Linked DNA regions of Homo sapiens: region 2 is linked to region 1. The links come from fine-mapping of genetic effects on gene expression. A gene starts in region 1. The other region holds a variant in brackets. All regions are shown on one strand. Distances are from middle to middle.

Region 1 (11,238 bases):
AATCACTTGTAGGGTGATGGCACAATGAGAGTGAGTGACATGTAGCTCGATTATATTTGCCTCCCTTCATGCCCACGTGAATGCACTGGTCTTTTGTTTGGCATTAGTACAAATCCTCTGTCTCTCCCATAACTCCTAGGTATCAATCATGAAGTTAATAGAAGTGGGATCCTCCAAAAGACACCTTGGCTTTCCCCACAGTCATCCACCTGTTCCACCTGTTTCAACAGGTGAACTCACTGCAAGCACAGAAGACATCTAAGGACTTTAGAAGTGAGGTAGCCTCCCAGGACACCAAGACACCTCCCCCAAGAAATGACTCCATTTGTACATTTTCATATAATGTTCTTTCTACAAGAGGATCTTTGTAATTTACTAGACCCTTTTCTTTCTCAAAATACATGAGGATACCAGAGGAATTATCTTCTAACCTTCATTTTGACCCTTTCACCTACAAACTTGATTGGATCTGCCTAATCTCTGAGGAACTTGCTAAGCTCTGGTTGTCAATTTATATGGCCAGATTGACAGAAAGTATGAAAGTCCTGTGGAACTATGTTTACTTTCACACATGAGCCAGTGAGGTAAGCCAGTTCATCTGGTGATGCAGCATTGATGGCTCTTCTTGGTCCCCAACCATGCATGTAATAATACACATGGTTTCTATTCATTTTCAACTGACTTGAGTCATCAAATTAAAACATATTCAGTGAATATAGTTCAAAGAAATGAGATAATGTTAAAGAAATAAAAACATTCAGAATAACTTTTTTCTTTGTCACCACGTTGGCTTAATTAGACAGGAATTGGTCCTACTTTGATTTTGTAAATGAGGAATTTAAGAAGCAGCAGTAATAATAATTACTGCAATATTTTCAGCCTTTCTAGGTTGTAAATTCTCAGCACTGTCGTTATTTGCATTCAGCCCTCACCTAAGGTTTTCTCAGATGCCTGTGGTTTAGATACCCCCACAGTAGGGATACCTTCCATTAAACTTAACTCACATGTAAAGCCTTTCCAACTTTAGATGAGTAGTGAAAAGCTGCCTTTAGCCTGTCATTGAAGTACCTTCTACTACCAGGGCAAGCTTTTAAGTGAGGGTCTTGATAAGAGCATTCCTCTGAGATGATCACTCTAAGACTTGGAGTAGGAAAGGAAATGAAATCCCAAGTTGCCTTATCCACCTCCTACCCCTCCTCTTGGTTCATCATAGTAGACTTCTATCTCCCCCAATTTTTTTACACACATGAACAGGGTCTGTAAACATAAGTTGTCGCCTCCTACATTCCTTTGACAATCACCATTTCCTCTAGGAAAAACTCTTCCTGCTCCACCCAGGTAGGGTTAGGTGAGCCTCCTCTATACCCTAACAGCAGCCTGCATGTATTTCTATTATGTCATTTGTTAAACTACCATGAGTTTGTTTTTTATAAATTATAAGAAGCTTTTCATTAATATCGATAAATGTGCATATATTATGGGCTTTATACCTTTGATGATACCATGTTCTTCTATTATGTGGTGGTTTAGAGATTCATAAAATTCATTCTTACCTATTTAAATTTGTCAAGAAATGTGCCCTTGGTTGACGGTAGGTAAAGAGGTTGCAAACTTGGTATCAGTAAGGCATAAAATCTGGTTTGTTCTGACCGCTGTATTATATTTCTGCTGTTGAATAACAAATTATGCAAACAAGGCAAACTTGAAACGATAGCCACTTATTATTGCACACAATTCCAGGTAAGCTTAGCTAATTCTTCACTCAGAGTCTCACACTCAAGATATCAGCCAGCTGCCATTCCCATCTGAGTCTTGGGGACTTCTTCCAAGCTCATTGGTTGTTGGCAGAATTCATTTTCTTCTTACCCTTTCCATGTGGGTTCTCCATCTTCAAGCCAGCAATGGTAGTTTGAATTATTCTTATGCTTCAAATCTCTCTGACTCCCTCGTCTGCTGCCAGCCAGAGAAAAATCTCTGCTTTTAAAAGCATGATTAGTTTTGCCTACCTGGACAATTTCCCTTTCACCCTAATATGGGCATAATATCAAGTTCAGGGGCCTTGGAAGTCATCTTAAAATTACGCCTTTTACAACCATGACTCTGGCACTTTTGATCAAATATTTCTGCATTCTTCATCTTTTTGTCTATAACAAGGATATGATTTTCTACCAGGGATGTTTAGAATTGAGAAATGCAAGCTGAAGTGGTCCTGAAGTAGTCAGAGAATCACTGAACCAAATGGAATCAATCCCACAGTCTTGACTTCAGAGGAAAGTGTATGCTGACCAAATGAGCAAACCAGTCATCTCTACTGGGAAAGTAATAATAGAGGTGGCCCTGATTTCAGAAGCAGAGTGAGATGCCAATGACTCCACTAAAATATTTCATTGTCCCAATAAAGTAAGGTTGTGACCACCATCTGAGTCGCTGCTGTCAAAGCACAACTTCAGTTATACTGTGCAGACTAGAATTTCTGAGCCCAATATTATTAAGCTGATTTTCTGATTATAATGGAGTCCAATTTCAGCTATTTCTCTGTGCACTTCCTATTTTTATAAAATTATATCAATCATAATCACTGTGATAATATTGTCAGTGCTGTCTAACTTACATATTTAGCTTATAAGTTAACAAAATCTTTAACAAACCAGCCACAAAAGTTAGCTTTATGAACCAGACTTATAGAGAATATAAAGGGACATGAAACCCATAGGAAAAGGAAATTCATCTCCTAAATAGTCACGATTATTTAGGCAAGATTTATTCCTTTTCAGTAAACCCCTTGAAAGAGGAGACTATCTGTGTCTTACCATTTTGCCCCCAACAAACTGCCTAATTTCATATCTAGAACATAGTAGGTGCTCAAGAAATACTTGCTGAATAATGAATGAACATTTGTTAGGAAACTTTAGTAGGAAGGATTTTAATAGTAAAACCGTGAAACTAATCTAAGTGTCTAAAACTAGAGAACGATTTAATAATGTTTTAACAGCCTCCAAAATTATGTTGAGGAAGAATAAGATATATCATAACATAAAAATTGTGATACAGATTATAGATGAAAAATTTAGGTTACTAACAAGAATGTATAAAATATTCCATTAATTATATATACATATATACACATATTTTACTATTTTATATATTAAAAGATATACAGCATTATACTATGTTGGTTATCTCTGGGGATCAGATTACAGGTTGTTTTTACTTGCTTCCTTGAGATTTTTTTCTGTAATATCTGAATTTTATTCCTTTCTTTCCAAATTTGGGGAAAAAAATAAGGTTTCTGAAAATTAAAAAAAATAGATAATATATCAAGTTTGGACTGCAAACCAGAGCTTTCAGCAGAACATAGTTGAGTCTTTGCCATAGACACCAACTCATTTCCTTCCTTTCTGTGGCATTCATTCCACTATCATGCATTTTTTCCCAAATGAGATGACAAAATGGAAAGACCATTTCTACACCAAGCATTGAGCCATAGGAAAGCGGAATGTCAGTCAGGGCATCTGCAGATCAGGAAATCATGTCACAGAAAACAGGACCTGTATAAGATCTAAGTTTATGCCATTTGCTGATCAGTTACCATATTTCAAAAATTATACACACTGTAATCCCCTCTCTCTGTTCTGCGGGCCCTTTGAAGAAGAAGGCATTTTTAGCAAATGTCCTTTAAATGGAGAAAAGAGGCAGATCAATTTACTCCAAACTACTTCAGATTAGATCTTAGTCAGAATGCCTCCCCAGAGTGGAAGCTCTTCTCCAGAAGTACCTTTCCTGTTGGATTCAGGTTCAGGGTTGGAACCCACAGACCCAGAATGATAGGCTATCAGCAAAGAAAAGCATGTCATTAGCATCCAGCAGCCCTCAGTTTGTCCTTGTCTCCTTCATCTTCCTTCAAACTTCTATTTTTCTCTTAGATTTCCCTGAAACTCTTTTAAAAATTCCTTTTGAAACAAGTGGGTGCCTGACTCATTGCCTATTTCCTCTGTTTTCCACCCAAGTGGTAAACAATGGGCTCTATTCAAATATGGACCGTCTGTGAGCTGGGAACCTGCGTGCAGACAAAGCTCCTTGTCCCAGGGCAGACTGCCAGACCCATGCTCTCCTCCACTCACCTCCTAGGCTGTTTAATAAGGGCCACTTGGCAAAAGGCAACATATTGTCATGGTCCTGTGACCTTGTAGTTCTCTGTCTCTTTTCCCTTCAGCCCGAAAGAATATTTCTCTAAATTCTCAAGTCAACGCATTTGAGAACAGCCTTTCAAAAGATACTTGTAGGAATAACAGAAGGTAGTTCAGGACCCAGTCAAAAGGACTATCTGGCTTTATTTACAATAATTTTAATGCCTCTGTCCTAACTCCTCCAAAGTTATTAATATTTTGTCTGTAGATGGTGGTTGCCAGGAAAGAGAATCTTGCAAAGTCAAGGGCATGACAAAGCTGAGAAATAGAGAAGGCTAGCCTAAGACTTTGGGAAGAGAAAGGTGAAGGAAAAAAATAGTAGGAATCAGACTATGGAACAAGAAGAACGGGACAAAGTTTCAAGTCCAAAGTGAGCAGGTAAGACAAAAATAACTGAACTTAAATGACAGAGTAGTCTTCAGGGAAAAAAAGAGAGAGAGAGAAGAGACTAGAGAACACATTTGCTTCAAGTGCTTGAGGAAAGCACACCTCCAGTGTGTAGAGGAATCACAGGAGGAGATTTTGCATATGGTGTCCAAACTCCCTTCCCAAGAATTTATGTTTCCTGAAGAACACTGCCAACTTCCCCCCTCCATCTTAAAATGGTAAGAAAGAGAGTTAAAGAGAAGGTAAGGGAAACAAATAAATAATTACGATAATCCAGTTATATTAGATATGTGTGCATTTTAAAATAACTTCAACAACCATATGAAATTGTGGCTCTTGTTCCTGTTTTTTTTACAGATGAGAAAATTGTAGCTTATGGAGTTTAAATAATTTGCTCACAGTCACAGAATTAGCGCTAGAATTTAAAATCAAGTGGTATGACTAAAAAACCATGAGAAAATTCATTCCTTCTTTTACAAAACAAGTCACTCTCTACTGACAATCAAACCCAAGTCCTCTAGATTCTCCATAATATTATTTACATCTATCCTCTTCTATCCAGCCCTACTGTCCCTCCCTCATAGCTTACTAAGTTTTCCCCAAAAGCCTCCTGACCTCCCTTCTCTGTGTCCCCCCATTCTTTTCCTTTCTTCTTTCCTTTTCCTTCCTCTCTCAACATGTATCTCATCAATTCCAACCTGCTTAAAACCCTTCAGTGACTTCCCACTGACCTAAGATTAAGTCATTGCTCTCAAATATGGCACTGCTTACCCATTGTTCTGCATATTATATTCTCTCTCCATCACTTTCTATGTTCCAACCACATTGGACTTCTTTAATATCCTCAAAACTACAAGTCGTATACCAGGGAAGGGCTTTTACACAGGCTGTTTATTCACTGTGGAACACTCCCTCCTCCTCTTCTCTTAGCTCAGCCATTCGCAAACTTTTGGGGCTCGGCCCCTTTGTGCTCTCAAATCTTCTGAAGAACCCCAAAGACCTTTTCATTTTAAAAAAGGTAGATTATATCATTATATCATGTTGCAAATTAGAACCAATTCTTTTTTAAATATTTAATTCATTTTAAAACAACATAGTAAACTGATTATACCTTAACATAAATAACATTTTATGAAAACATAGCCACGTTTTCCAAAACCAAAAATACATGAGTGAGACTAGTAGTGCTGTTATGCATTTTTTGCAAATCTTACCAATATCTGGCTTACTAAAGGATAAATGGATTCTCATGTCTGCTTCTGCATTCAATCTGTTGTGAAATCTATGTTATGCAGCTTCTGTAAAACTCCATTGTACACTTGTAATGCAATAAGAATGAAAAGGCAAATGACTTCTTAGTATTATAGGAAAACAGTCTTAACTCCTCCCTAAAAGTGTCTTAGGCAGAGACATCCAGGAAACCCAAGGTATACATTAGGAACTCTTAATTATCCTTAATATCTTGTCTTAAAGTTAAAATTTGCAAAGATGTCTTTCCTGACCTCAAAGAATAGGTCTGAGTCCTCTTGTTATATGTTTCTATAACATTCTTACCTCTCTGTCAAAACACTCACCGTACCTATAATTTATTCAATAATTTGCATAAGGACAGGGACCATACCAACTTTGTTCATAGTGAGTCTCCAGTGCTCAGCACACAGCAAGGACTCAGAAAATCTTTGTGGGAGGAAGCAGGAAATAGAAGGGGGAGAGCAAGGAAGTAAGGCCTCAGACTCAATGACACAGCTCCCTGACAATCGCTCCATTCCTTCAGCAGGATGTACACAGAGATATAACTTTCTACAGCATCCACTGCAGCTCTGGGCTCCATTTCCCTTTGAAATGGGATGGGAGAAAGGGGCAGGTAACAGACTGGAGTGAGGAGACTGAGGAGAAACTGTAGAGAATAATACTTAGGAGTACACGTGCTGGATTCTCTCATTAAGGTAATCATTCAATATTTACTAAGCAGCTACAATTTGCCAGGCATTCTTCTGGGCACTTGGGACACATCAGTGAACAAAATAGAGAAAAGTTTCTGGCCTCAAGCGATTTACAGGCAGACCTGAACTCAACCACACATCCCTCCACTTGAGTTGGCCTGGATTGTTTGTTTAATCTTCTTGTGCCTTATTTCTCTCATCAGTAAAATGTGAACAAGCCTTGAGAGTTTCCAGGTGAGAACTAAATGAAAGAATATCTTTAATGTACCCAATAGAATCAGGCACCTGGTAGGTGCCTAATAAATGGAAATCTTTCTGCTGGCAACTCTTATTCCAAAATTGATTTTTTTTTCATGTACAGAAACTATTCGATAGATTAGAATCCAGTCACTCACAGGATATCACTTGGGTAGTTGTCGGGGAGGGGGAGTGGTGTATTTAGGGTCTTCTCAGGATTCGGGGGGCTGGCTGCAGTGTCATTTTCCTATAGAGAAGCATCACCTCTGGCTTCCTCTCTTCTTCACAAGCCACCTGGATATGTTTACATTGAACTATGCAAGGTACTATTGTAGTCTTAAGCTATGCAGTATTTCAAAACAGACTTTCCTGAGGACTCTTACAAAAATAATTATGCCACGAGTGTCAGACTATTTGAAAGAAGATATTCATAGCCAACTGTTTGTAAGGGACCACCTCCTTACATGGGTTTATTGTGTATCATAGGGTTGCTGGGGTTTTCCAACTTCACCCTCTGAGTGTGGGTTGGCCTTTCTGAGAAAGCTACACTGCCTTTGAAGTAGGACTACCAGGAGAGAGGGGGGAAAAAAAAGTGTAGGGCTCTTTGACTTTTCATTTCCCTTTCTATCTACTTACTCTTTGTGCCTTCTCCAGTTAGTACCACACTAGAGAAGTGTTAGGTAGAGGAAGAGGAAGAAAGAAAAAAGGACAATCTTATCAGTTGATTTTGCTATGTGTTACCAGTCTGGTAAAAACATTTGAAGTTAGAAAGTATTCAAACATGAATAAAGTTTGGGAATTACTTGTATGGATTTAATTTCCTCAGAATACCCTCATTGTTCCTTCGCAGGAAATATTCATGAGTCAACTATCCAGAATCATAGTTATTATTCAAGCGGTGTGGGTTTAAAAGGAGATTTGATGCCATGGCAAACCTCACTGACTTAGACTGTTCTTCAAGTTAAAGAGCAGGATGATGTCTGAAGTGGCTGAAACACATATGGCTTCAGTGTGTCAAGAAGACCTGAAAGATCCCACATGGAAGTGAAATTCATTACTGGCAAGCACGGTGGCAGGAGACCCCAGAGGGCTGAGCCGCAAAGAATTTGCAGAGCCTTATGGCTAACTCCATGGCCTAGTTTGATCTTGAAGTTACTGTCTTGGATAATCCTCTCAAATCTGTTCCTGCACTTAAGAGCCACTCATCACATGACGGAGCTCCCTCTCAGGTTCCTTTACATCGCCCTGTCAGAAATGACTTTCAGGGAACAGACATCACATCAAATCATCCAACAGATGTCCCTTTCAAATAAGTTGGAGCAGAACCAACTATATGGAGAAGTCATAAACAAAGAAACAGACAACCCAGTGATTTCCAGCGGATTGACATTACTCTTTGCACAGAAACCTCAGTCTCCTGGGTGGAAGAACATGAGTTCAACAAAGCGTGTGTGCACTATATTGGCTGACTCTTGCCGTGCTCAGGCTCATGCTGCTGACAGGGGAGAGAGGGGACATTTTGGAGTCCAAATCTTGCATCATTTCATTGAAGTGTTCAATGTCATGGCTGTAAGAAGTAACCCATTTTAATAACTGGCATCAAAGGATTTAGGAGAGAGAAACCCAGTATCCAGACCCATTTCCGTCAGTGACACTCTCCTCGTATTGGGAGGATTGGCCAGAATCGTCTGATTCCTGTTTCTGATTTCCTTCCTCACTGGCATCAGAGTATTTCACTATAGGAAAACTAATATCTAACTGAGCTCCAAGTGCTAAATAACAGCATCTCATGTTCATTCCGGGTCACCAAGAGGTTCAGGGTGACCAAGTCACAAACTATAAATTTGAACATTTGATGATTTTTGCAGGAGACTGGGTGAACAAAGGAAAACCCGAGAGATACATAAAGGTGGAAACTAGGATTTCTCATTTGAATTATTTAACATGCCTCACTCTAATGGTTATAAATGTAAAGGAAATGCAGGTTCTTCAAGAAGGTGAAACGAAGTTACTGAATTTAAGTTTTTTTTTTTTTAAACCTACTTTAGAATAGGAAACATGCTTACTAATATTTACAAGGCACTACAAGGCACCAGCCAAAAAGCCTGATTTATTGGCAGGATATTCTTGTTGTTGTTGTTTCTATTGTCCATATAGGCAGGCAATTAATACTTTTTAGAAAATTAAGTTGCCAACTCAACACTGCCTACTTTTGAATTTTTATTCTAGCAACAGCCGATAATTTATTGGAAATTCCTTATGTGCTGGGCACTACGCTAGACATTGGGAGTACGAAAATTAATATGGTAAAGATCCTGGCTTTAAAGAGTCTTTAACATTATTTCAGCAGTTTTATTACAGGTGTATATGTTGGAATTGACAGAACACTTAGCTCAAAGCAAGGGTTCAAGCATGACTTTGCAGAGTAGATTTCAGCTGAGCTTAAAGGATGTGAGAATAAGTATACACATTTTTTAAATTACCCAGAATGTAGTGCCTACAGAAGTGCTTGAGCCTCAGTTGCTTCTAAGAGTCCAACTTCAGAACTTGTATCTTCTAGATTGAGCTCATTGCTTAATTTCTAGCCAACATAGCCCATCTCTCTCAGCTGAATACTAAGCTCATCAACTTCTCCTTTGATCTAGGTCTTGATTAGAATGTTGAACATGACAAGGCTGAAGGCAGAAACCATAGAAACTTCTATCCAGAGTTACACTCGTCTCTTAATAGCTGCCTACTGTTGCAATCAGAATAAACTCACTTCTTGCCCAATTATGACAGTTCATTCACCTTCTACTCAAGGGAGACTTTAAGAATTGTTGAAGTTGAACTTCTCAGGTTCTTATACTTAGTGACACTGTTCATGCAATGGCTCAGTATTTCTTGATTTCTCAGAACCAGCAAAAGTCACAAACTGAATCCTCAAATTGGAATTCGTAAGTGACTAACTTGTAGCATAACTTTATTATACTAGGAAAGATGGGGCAAGGGACAGAAAAAATATCTGTAACATCTTATATGTTCAAATATAAGCGCTTTATGTATATTTAGTCATTCAAACTCCAAATACACATTAAGAAGTAGTCATCAATATTCCACTCTCTAATTCTACAATTTCTACCTTTTTAGATTCCACATATAAGTGAGATCATATGGTATTTGTCGCTCTGTGCCTGACTTATCTTACTTAACATAATGTCCTTAGGTTCATCCCTGTTTGAAAATGGCAGAATTGCCTGTTTTTTTTTTTAAGGCTAAATAGTATCCTATTTTGTATATTCAGCACATTTTAAAAAATCTGTTCATCAGCTGACGGACACTTAGGTTGATTCCTTATCTTGGCTCTTGTGAATAATGCTGCAATGAACACAGGAGCTCAAACATCCCTTTGAAATACTGATTTAAATATCTTTGGGTATAAACCCGGAATTGGCTGTGGGGAGTTAGACAGGGAAAATGTCCACATTGCTCTACGGATACAAAGTTTCAGTTAGGAGGAATAATTCTGGTGTTCTATTGCACAGCACAGTGTCTATAGTTAATAGTAATGTATTATATATTTCAAAATAGCTAAACAAAGAGAATTTTAATGTTCTTACCGCAACGAAATAATTGTTTCAGAAAATAAATATGCTAATTAGCCTGATTTGCTCATTCCACAGTGTATATACATGTATCAAAAAGTCACATTGTACCCCATAAATATACAAAATTATTTGTCAATTACAATAAAACTTTTTTTTAAAAAGTAATTATCAAGGTCTCCATTTGACTGATAAAACTTAGATTAAATCTGAGCTAGAACTCAGCGAATATTGCACCAAATGTTCTTCCCATTATGCTCCTCCCTCTTCCTCGCTAAGATTGCGCCCCTTCTCCTCCCTAACTCGCCACAAGTTCCCATCACCCTTCACTAGTTTTCAAACCAAGGAAAACATCATTCAATGAATGATAATACTTGACCAAGAACTTTTAAAGAGTTTTGAGTTAAAGAAAATGTGACTTGGGTTAAAGTCACATTTTAAACTTGTGATTTGTGTTAAAGAAAATGAAACCCCTAAATGACTTTTCTTAAATAGGCATTCAAAAAAAATTGACCTTTTAATCACTTAATCCTCACATATCTATATGCTATGGACTGAATTGTGCTCCCCAAAATTCATATTTGAAGCCCTAACCACTTCCCCACAATGTAACTGTATTTGGAGATAGGGCTTTTATTTAGAGATGGAACATTGAACCTAATTAAGGTTAAATGAGGTCATTGTCATTAGGGTGAGACCCTAATCCAATAGGACTCGTGGGTTTATTAAAAGAAGGGACTGATTCTCTCTCTCTCTCTGCCTCTCTCTGTCAGGTAAGGACACAGTAAAAGGAAGTAATCTGGGAGCCAGTAAGAGGGCCCTCCCTAGAATCTGATCATGCTGGAATCCTGATGTTGGACTTCCAGCCTCCAGAACAATGAGAAATAGATTTATGTCATT
Region 2 (11,238 bases), 28 kb after region 1:
ACTGGGGACATCCTCCAAGACACTGGTGTTTAATAATTTCATGGAAATTTTTTCAGCAGGCTATAAATTCCCAGAATGGGGAGACTTATGTCTGACATTATGTTCTATACCTTGTCCACTCCCCTGATTATAGAGACATAATATTCAGTATATGAGTACAAGTCCTTAAACACTCAGTTTGAACTGTCATGAGGATCTAGCAAATCTGTTTTCAGAAAGGACCTGGGGAAGCCCCTCAGCCTGGTGATCTTTCTCCTGCTTCCTGAAAACCCAGCACTCTTCATACCTATCCTATCCTGGCTTGGCTGTAGACTGAGTGGACGGTCTTTCCTCCAGAGGAACTTCTATGAGAGTCCAACAGACAACCAGATTCCAGAATCATATGGAGAAACCAGGTGACTGGGCTAAGAGGGGACCCTCAGTGTGACAATGGCAAGAGATGTTTATCCAGAGGACCAGGCCAAACAATTCCATCTAGTTATCTAGTTTTCTGTGACTCTTGGGTAGTAGTGAGCTATTATATCATGATGGGAATGACAGGAAGAACAGGGAGAAAAATAATATTAATTATAGCAGGCTGAGATTATTCTACATAGCAAACCACAGTTCTGTCCTCTACTGGAAAATTAGCTGTACTTCATGGTTGCCCCAGCTGAGGTGCTGTGGCTAAAAGAAGACTGTCTGAGAAAATGATGAAAGGCACAGTCTGACCTTTGCTCCTTGGAATGTTATTATTGTCCAAATAAACGATGCATATGTTATCAGAGCATCTTTTCTACCAGGTCAGTAGATGTTCTTCCTATGCCTATGCTATTACCCCTAAAGTGGACTAAGGTAGCAATGCATGGACCAGATCTGAGAATACAATTACTGAATACCCTTAAACACTAGTCAACCGAATATTGTAAGCAGAGGTGGAAATGACAACTGTGATTCTTCACTGTCATTACTGGCATGAAGAAGGTCCAGTCTCCTTCTCAGGACCACTGAAGTTCACAGGTCTAGGGAATACTGCTTGTACTGCAGTCTCAGGAATTCTACCCCATGGCATTTCCAGTGTGCAGCCTGCCTGTCATTTGCAGCTGCCCCAATCCTTCTATTTCCAACTGTCATTTATTCTTTCCAATGAATATAGAAACATGCCTGACAAACTTACGCACTATGAGAAAACTTAGAGCAGGGACTGAGTCTTGGAAAAAAGTTAAATGTTTTTCTTTTAAATAGATCTGAATATAATATCTTCCAGGATCACACATCCTAAAATAACTGTGATTCTTTTCTTTAAAAAGCAAACAAACAATATGCCCCTCCAATTAAAAGAAAATTCTAAAATGGAATTGCCAAAATTCTGGATGAGACATTCTTCCCTTTTACCTCTCTCATGCCGGGAAATTCTTTCTGCTTGCTAACCCCCGAATACCATCCGCGATTAGAAATAGAGGAGAACTCCATCGAGCACTGTGTTTCAGGTTCTCAACAAATATCTGGGGCTCTCAGACTGCCTGCCAGGCACCTTGCTAGGCACCAGATCCATAAAACTGGTTCTCACTTCTCTACCCATTTCTCCTTAAAAAGAAAAAAACTCAAAAGTTGGTTTGTGGAGGTTTGGGGTCCAACAACTATTTATGCAAAATATTTGCCGATTTTCACCAGCTTTCTATCCATGGCCTAAAGGAAGCTGAAACAGCTTAGAGGCTGAAGAAATGAACCACAGAGCTTGAAACAGAGGCAATCAAGTCATCTCAAACAGCGGGACTAGGAAATCTAAGTCAAGTCTGAAGAGAAAGGTAGTGAAAGACTTACCATTTTTCTTTTTCTTTTTCAAAAGAAGTCAATGGCCATTCAGTGTTTAAATGAGAACAAAGACTACAGGGGGGAAAAATTAAGGTAAATATTTGTAATAATGTGTCATTGCATTTTACATAATGGGCCAGCAGTCTTTGAAATGTGACGACATCCATATCTACAGTTTTATTTGTTTTTTCTTATTTGCTCTCCTGAGGCAAGTCTCTTTTAGGCTGTCAGCCACCAAAGCAGCTAGCAAATACAAGGACACTGAAAGGCATTCTGCCAACACGACCTCAGAAGTATTTACAGACTGCAATGGAGACCATGATATAATTCAGTTTCTGCATGGCTATACTCTTTGCCAATTAATATTCTAATGTATCCTTTGAGGATGTGGTAAATGTTGGTTTAAGATAAAACAGCAAAGACAAATATTAGTGTGCCACATAAAGGTATTACTTGCCATGAGAGCACTGTTTCTTAGTACAGACTACCTGGATTGCACAACCAGAGATTCTGGTCTCACTGGACCAGAGTGTACAGCCTGGGTACCAGGATTTTCAAATAGCCTCGTCCACCTAGTGATTCTAATAAGCAGCTATGATTGAGAAACACTGTACTCGTCAATTACCAGAATGTTTTGTATTCTATTTGGAACACAACTAAAATTTGACCTGATGAACTCGTGCAAAATATTAAAAGCTGAACCTGCAGAGGCCAGATGCAGTGGCTCATGCCTGTAATCTTACCACGTTGGGAGGCTGAGTCAGGCAGATCGCTTGAACCCAGGGGTTCAAGACCAGCCTAGGCTACATGGTGAAACTTCATCTCTATTAAAAATACAAAAATTAGCCAGGCATGGTGATATGCACCTGTAGTCCCAGCTACTCAGGAGGCTAAGGTGGGAGAATGGCTTGAACCTCCAGAGGCAAAGGTTGCAGTGAGCTATGATCGTGCCACTGTACTCCAGTTTGGGTGACAGAATGAGACCCTGTCTCAAAAACAAACAACAAACAAAAAAGGCTGAAACTGCAGAGAAATAGGGAGAGGACTATGGAAATATTATAGAAAGATAAATAGCTGAAGAAGTAATGTCACCGCCACACACCCTAACCTGATATTTGAGGAAAAGAGACGAAACACACAAGTAACAAAAACAAAAGGTGAAGCTTGGTTAGTCCAATCCTTGATGCCCAGAAAAAAATCTTACAGGAGACCAGAAGATAAGGGCCAACAAAAGCTGAACAGAAGTTCAGTGAAAATCAGTAAGGTCTTTAGGATAGTCTAGTTCTGCCTCATTTTCCTGAGGCAGCAGTGGGAAGCAGCTGGCCCTCCTGCCCCTCTCCCCAGCCCCTCCAGGCCTGCATGCTATCCTTGGGGACCCTAGGCCTCTGCTGGGATTTCCCTCTGCTGTGGGGATTTCCATGCTGGCCTAGAGGCCCGCGGCAAGTAGCCCAGTTGCTAGAGCCTGGAGGCAGGTGAGCAGGGTGGTAGAAGGTGAGGGAGTGATGTCAGAGAAGCCTCTCAACAGACAGCATCAGCTTCCTGACGCTTAGAAGACCCCTTGTTTCTTCCATCTCTTCAGAGCCAGGGCCATCAGGTGGCCCATAAACTCCTTTTTCACATGCAAGCTGAGAAGGCTGTGAGCCAGCCACATGGCAGGGGGTTGAGAGGCCATCACCCTGCGTGTTCACCGCCTCTCCTCGCTGCTGCTGGAAGGAAAGGGCTTTGCCTCCAGTTAAGGGAACATGAGGTCCTCATAAAGGTTTCAGAGAGTTGGAGCAGAGATGGAGGGGCTGATAACTTGTCTCTGTCCCTAATATCTGACAGAAACAAAGAGCAAGGAATACAACACTTACTATTTAACATTTAATTTAGGATGGCACCAATTTCCATTAAGTGAAGCATCAAGGAAAAATGCTGATATTGATAGTCTTCTAGGATCCTTAATCATTCTCATAATTTTAAAAAAATCTAAAGATTTTCTGAGCTAGATATGGTAGTAATTATAATTTTTGTAGTATATATCATGTGTATTACAAAAAGATACATATAAATATGTATAAAATATGATATATTTTCTGTAAATTCTTTATCCTAGTATTTAATTCCCATGACACAATAATTATGCATATTATTAAACCTGTTTCATCGTCGAGTCATTTGGTTAAAATAACTGTATTCGGGGATGTTTAATCCTTACAGCTCCTTGAACCAAAAGCCTGGAGGTTTAGTTACAGGTTTACAAATCACAGGGAAAACTGTTCCTAGTAGCTTTCTCATGCTATCATAGCCTTTGTCTTTTTCTGCCTCTCCTTTGTCAAAATATATCTGTCAGAGAAAGATTTCTCACCATGATAATCAGTAAATCTCCCCAAGAAATGACTGTAAAATTGGATAACATTGTCAAAAATAACAATTTTAGGCCTTTGAAAACTAAGCAAAGACAAGAAAATAAGCAAACAAACCAACTGAGAAGGATTTACCCATTAAATAAAAGACAGATAGACTTTGGGCCTCCATGGTATTCTTGCCTGGGGCTGCTCCCATCATCTCTCCAGCTCAAGGGTCTTGGTAGTTCTACCAGGGCAGGGCTGGTCATGAAAACCAGCAGCTTCACTCCTAGCAGGGCTCACTCGTGTCTAGTGGGACTGTCAGTAAAATAATAAGGCTAGTAACACACATGCCTCATAGTCTGAGGTTGCTCTCACAGATCGGGGGCATTTCAGGCTGGCAGACTAGCCAGACATTTAGCAAAGAGATCCTAGAAATGAGAGCACTGCAGAAAGCCTAGATAAGACCCCAGGCAGACGGGGATGGGATGCTACACACATGCTCATGGGACACCCAGAAGGGCCCAGTTGAAAGTAAAACCCAGGGAAGACTTGAAAACTGTCTGAACTTGGAACATGCTCCTGTTACCACATCAGCAGAAGGTGGAAGCTCTGCTGGCTTGAGGTGTTTGAGCACAACATCTGACCAGTCTTTGGGTGACCACTAAACTACAAGATGCAGGGGAATCCCGTGGGAACCCAGGCTAGTAAAATGAAAATAAGAATTAAAAAAAAAAAAGAAAAAAATAGCTGCCTGACATCAGTGGGGAAACAAGTTCTGCAGAATAAGTCTAGGCAACTTACTAAAACAGCAAGAGCAGCAGCAACAACAAAATGACAACAACCTTTGGGGGGAAAGTAAGAATCCAGAATTTTGACATCATCTATTTGCTAAAATGACTGGTTTTCAACAAAATATCATGAGATAGGCAAAGAAATAAGATGGTATGACCTATATTCAGGAAAAATATCAGTCAACAGAAACTGTCTTGGAGCAGGCCCTAATGTTGAATTTAGCACA[G/T]GAAGAAACAATCCAAAATGAAGCAAAAAAAAAAATGACTGAAGAAAATACTGAGCAGAGCACTAGAGGCCTATGAGAAAACAGCAAGCTGTCATTGGACTCTGTACTCGGTCTCAGAAGAAAGTGATAGGAAAAAAAAATCAAAAGTCTGTGGGAATAACGGCCACACATTGTAAGCACATAACAACACATTCTGAAAAGAAAGAATATCCTAAAAACAGACAAATAAACAATATGTAGAAGTACAATAATAAAAAAAAATGGCTGATTTTCAGGAAAACAGTGCAGCCTCATTTCAAAACACACACACACAAGGTCTGTCAACCTAGAGTTCTCTATATCCAGAAAAAGAACATATATCTAGTAATAATATCCTTCAAAGCAAAGATGAAATGAAGACATATTCATATCAACTAAAGCTGAGAAGAATCCTTTGCCAGTAGACCTACGTTGTGAGAAATGCTAAAAAAAAAAAAAAAAAAACAGGTTTTCATGCTGAAATCATACTAGTCTGAAACTTGATAACTTAGTTCTACAGGAAAGCTTAAAAAGTACCTGAAATGGTAAAGAAGTAGATAAATACGTAATACTATTTTTTCCTAATATCTTTGAAAAAACAGATTTAAAGTTAAAATAAAAGCCTTGTAATTAGGGGTTTGTAATCTATATAGCAGCAAATTATACGACAGTAATAGCAAAAAAGACTGGGAAGGCAAATGGTATTATACTGTTGTAAGCCTCTTACATTACACATAAAGTTCAAGACATACTATACTAAGAGATATATAGACAGTGATATAGTTTGGATCTGTGTCCCTACCCAATTCTCATGTTGAATTGTAATCCCCAATGTTGGAGGTAGGGCCTGGTGGGAGATGATTGGATCATGGAGGCAGTTTCTCATGAATAGTTTAACACCATACCCCTTGGCAATGTTCTTATGATAGTGAGTTCTCGTGAGATCTGGTTGTTTACAAGTGTGTGGCACCCCCCACCTTGGTCCTTCTCCTGCCATGTAATACACCTGCTCCTGCTTTGCCTTCTGCCATGAGTCAAAGCTCCCTGAAGCCTCCCCAGAAGCAGACACTGCCTTGCTTCCTATACACCCTGCAGAACTGGGGGCCAATTAAACCTCTTTATAAATTACCCAGGCTCAGGTATTTCTTTATAGCAGTGTGAGAACAAATTAATACAGATAAATAGTGTATTAGTCTGTTTTCACACTGCTATAAAGAAATATCCTGAGACTGGGTAATATACGAAGGAAAGAGGTTTGATTAACTCATAGTTGCACATGGCTGGAGAGACCTCAGGAAACTTACGATCATGTGAGAAGGCAAAGCAGAAGCAAGGACCTTCTTCACAGGGCGGCAGGAGAGAGAATAGTGATGAGCGAAGAAGGAAGAGCCCTTTATAAAACCATCAGATCTCGTGAGAACTCATTCACTATCATGAGAACAGCATGGGGAAACTACCCCCATGATCCAATCAACCCCCACCAGATCTCTCCCTAGACACATAGGGATTATGGGGATTACAATTCAAGATGACATTTCGGTAAGGACACAGCCAAACCATATCAGATGGATGGATGGATGGATGGATAGATACATAGATAGATAGATAGATAGATAGATAGATAGATAGATAGATAGATGGATCCCTAGGATCAACTACTGAAGAATAAAGCAAAGGGTAAAAATAAAAAGTCAAGGAACGATATAAAATAGAATACTAGGCCGAGGCGCGAGGATCACGAGGTCAGGAGATCCGGACCATCCTGGCTAACACGGTGAAACCCCGTCTCTACTAAAAATACAAAAAAAAAAAAAGTAGCCGGGCGTGATGGCAGGCGCCTATAGTCCCAGCTACTCAGGAGGCTGAGGCAGGAGAATGGCATGAACCCGGGAGGCGGAGCTTGCAGTGAGCCAAGATCGCACCACTGCACTCCAGCCTGGGCAACAGAGCAAGACTCCGTCTCAAAAAAAAAAAATAGAACACTAAAAATACATATGTTTCACAAACGATATGTATTTGGGCAATATAAAGAATTCTTGCAATTAAGTAGTTTTTAAACAAAACAAATAACCCAATAAAAATGGGCAAAAGATTTGGACAGACATTTCACAAAAGAAGATATAAGAATGCTCAACATGTGAGTAATCAGGAAAATAAAAGTTAAAGCTACAATGAGATACCACTATACACCCACTAGAATGGTTAAAATTAAAAAGCCTAAAAATGCCAAATGTTACTTACGATCTTGCAATTCCTCTCCTTGGTGTTCACCCAAAAGAAATGAAAACATATGTCCACCAAGTAACTTGTACAAGATTGTTCTTTGCAGCTTTATTCACAATAGCCAAAAACTAAAAGCAACATGATGTCCATTAAAAGGAAAATGGATAAACAAATTGTGGTATATTTATACAATGCAAAATGAGTCAACCAAAGCAGAAAAAATGAATTAACTACCGATACATGTGATAACTTGGATGAATCTCAAAGATAATACGTTGAGGGCAGAGGTGCAATGGGGAAGCCAGACACAAGAGTCCATTTATGTCAATTTCAAGAACAGGCAAAGACTGTATCAAAACATCTCATGCCCCTCATAAATACATACTATGTACCCACAAAAATTTTAGAAATTAAAAAGTTAACAATATGTAAATAAAAAGAATAGGCAAACAGGCAAAGCTAATTTGTCAGGATATCGAAACAGAGATTAACTTTTTTGGGAGGGAGTGGGGAACTGACTGGGAAAAAGCGCGAGGGAATTTTCTAGGGTGATGTAAAGTTCTGTGTAAATGTTCTGTGTAACTGGGATCATCAAAATTTGAGAAATGTGCATTTTACTATAATTACATTTAGGTAATGTAATTTAATAAACTTCAATAAAAATACGCCTCAAACCCCACATTCTTCCTTTTTTTTTCTTCATTTCATTGACTGTGACTTCCCTTCAAAGCTACTGAAGAAAGGGAGGCATAGATTCGTTACCACAAGTTCAGCTCAGCTCCCAACTCTGAACATTCTTTTCAGTTCTTGACTATGGTCATCCCCCAACTCCTGAAGTAGGAGGATTTTCCAAGCATAAAAGAATGACCAGGTTTAGATTTAGACCAGATTTTCTAGAACCTAAGAAAATAAGCATATGTACTTTGCTAAACTACCTGCCTATCTGATAACCTGATTTTAGTATCTGATGTAGAACTTGGAAGCCATAAATTTGAAAATCCCAAATTGCAAATTAACAAATTGAGCATTTATTTGAGGAACAAGTATCATGTTTATGAGCAGCACCCACAGAGTTTGGAAGAGAAGGTTTACCCACTAATAGCCATCCTAACTTACGTTTAAAAAAGTTCATAAACCTCTAGTCAGCTATAGAACATGGGATCATGGGGGCTGCACAGTGACTAAAAGGGATTTTAAAACTGTAAATATGCCCAGGCACAGTGGCTCACGCCTGTAATCCCAACACTTTGGGAGGGTGAGGCGGGTGGATCACCTGAGGTCAGGAGTTCGAGACCAGCCTCACCAACATGGTAAAACCCGTCTCTACTAAAGATACAAAAATTAGCCAGGTGTGGTGGCGTGTGCCTGTAATCTCAGCTACTTGGAAGGTTGAGGCACAAGAGTCACTTGAACCCAGGAGGCAGAGGTTGCAGTGAGCTGAGATCGTGCCATCGCAACTGCAGCCCGGGTGACAGAACGAGACTCTGTTTAAAAAAAAAAAAAAAAAAAAAAAAAAACTATATCCGAATTATTAAAAATTTAACCAATTAGTCAAAATAAACTTTGTGAAAGAATTGAGCCAATCATTGTTGCCAATGTGCTAAGGACTCAGGGATCAGGACAGATGGAACAAAAATGTGAACACATTTGTAGTCATATTTAGATAAGAAAATCATTCTTAATCCATATGATAAAAGTATCCTTTTATCTTTTCTAATTATCATTCTATAGATATTAATGTGAGAATACTCTCCAACTCCTTTAAAAAACCTGTTGCTCAAAATGTTCTTCATTTAAAGGAACTGGTAATGATAAGTGGGAAATGACACATACTACTGGTGTAGCTGGTGGAGCCATTGACATCTCACCTCTGTGGGTTGTTTAGAGATAAAATTCGTTTCTTTCATAGCAAGGAGCATTCTAAGGATTCTTGGTGAGGTGGTTTTGTTTTATTCCCTGGAATATGGAGAATAGCTGTGGCAGATATCCAGGGGTTGTTTTCTCCAGCATGTTCTAACATACTTTAACTTTTTTTTTTTTAATTATACTTTAAGTTCTAGGGTACATGTGCACAACGTGCAGGTTTGTTACATATGTATACATGTGCCATGTTGGTGTGCTGCACCCATTAACTCGTCATTTACATTAGGTATATTTCCTAATGCTATCCCTCCCAGCCCCCCTCACCCCACAACAGGCCCCGGTATGTGATGTTCCACTTCCTGCGTCCAAGTGTTCTCATTGTTCAATTCCCACCTATGCGTGAGAACATGCAGTGTTTGTTTTTTTGTCCTTGCAATAGTTTGCTGAGAATGATGGTTTCCAGCTTCATCCATGTCCCTACAAGGGACATGAACTCATCATTTTTTATGGCTCCATAGTATTCCATGGTGTATATGTGCCACGTTTTCTTAATCCAGTCTATTATTGTTGGACATTTGGGTTGGTTCCAAGTCTTTGCTATTGTGAATAGTGCTGCAATAAACATACGTGTGCATGTGTCTTTATAGTACTATGATTTACAATCCTTTGGGTATATACCCAGTAATGGGATGGCTGGGTCAAATGGTATTTCTAGTTCTAGATCTCTGAGGAATCCCCACACTGTCCTCCACAATGGTTGAACTAGTTTACAGTCCCACCAACAGTGCAAAAGTGTTCCTATTTCTCCACATCTTCTCCAGAACCTGTTGTTTCCTGACTTTTTAACGATCACCATTCTAACTGGTGTGAGATGGTATCATGCTACCTGACTTCAAACTATACTACAAGGCTACAGTAACCAAAACAGCATGGTACAGGTACCAAAACAGAGATTCAGACCAATGGAACAGAACAGAGCCTTCAGAAATAATACCACACATCTACAACTATCTGATCTCTGACAAACCTGACAAAAACAAGAAATGGGGAAAGGATTCCCTATTTAACAAATGGGGGTGGGAAAACTGGCTAGCCATATGTAGAAAGCTGAAACTGGATCCCTTCCTTACACCTTATACAAAAATTAATTCAAGATGGATTAAGGACTTAAATGTTAGACCTAAAACCACAAAAACCCTAGAAGAAAACCTACGCAATACCATTCAGGACATAGGCATGGGCAAGGACTTCATGTCTAAAACACCAAAAGCAATGGCAACAGAAGCCAAAATTGACAAATGGGATCTAATTAAACTAAAGAGCTTCTGCACGGCAAAATAAATTACCATCAGAGTGAGCAGGCAACCTACAGAATGGGAGAAAAATTTTGCAATCTACTCATCTGACAAAGGGCTAATATCCAGAATCTAAAAAGAACTCAAACAAATTTACAAGAAAAAAACAAACAACCCCATCAATGAGTGGGTGCAGAATATGAACAGACACTTTAACTGTTTTGAAAGAATATGTGGTAAATCAGGATCCCCAGGGGACAGACTCTGAGGCTCTGAGATTGCATGTAAAAGCTTTATGAAGAACTGCTTTTAGGATTGGGCCAAGAGAGGTTGGACTATGATGCATGCACAGCAGGGGCCCCAGCCATCCTACAGGAAGCCCTGGGGCTGTGGTGGCCCCCAGAGTTGTGCTGCCTTGATGCACGCAAGACAGCCATTTCGTGTGGGAAGACCTTGGGGATGGGACATGACCTTGGGCAAGGCAGCACCGATGGCCGAGGCCAGTTCTTGGAGGAGAATCAACTGGGAGCCATCCACTGCCACACTCCCACAGATGTAGGAATGAGTACCTCCTTCTTGACATGGGACTTGAGTGGATCACCACCACTTCCATGCCACAGTTTCAGAGATTCTGAACCTCTCCTTGAGACTGGCCAATGACTACATAGCCACAGCAGCTGATGTACATTAATACCAA

Alleles and levels. Alleles are on the strand shown, and positions count from the first base shown. SD is a standard deviation of normalised expression in the study named.
With allele T in place of G in region 2, the expression in fibroblasts of the gene that starts at base 6,326 in region 1 is higher (small effect, 0.20 SD a copy in GTEx).

What was found. PIP is the estimated chance that this variant, and not a neighbour inherited with it, causes the effect.
Region 2: its variant is fine-mapped to the expression of LINC02915 in fibroblasts (GTEx, PIP 0.97).

Annotation. Positions count from the first base shown.
Region 1 is chr15:39,244,344-39,255,581 of GRCh38, forward strand. It overlaps LINC02915 (long intergenic non-protein coding RNA 2915), which reads left to right and starts at 6,326. Exons shown (of 2, transcript NR_144508.1): 1 at 6,326-6,520; 2 at 7,716-10,502. All of the region lies in intron 1 of LOC105370777 (a long non-coding RNA gene), which reads right to left.
Region 2 is chr15:39,272,037-39,283,274 of GRCh38, forward strand. All of the region lies in intron 1 of LOC105370777 (a long non-coding RNA gene), which reads right to left. Among named protein-coding and RNA genes, the nearest start is that of LINC02915, 27 kb to the left of the region's middle. RefSeq lists enhancers at 2,830-3,331, 3,332-3,831. The variant G/T (reference allele first, on the strand shown) is at 5,143.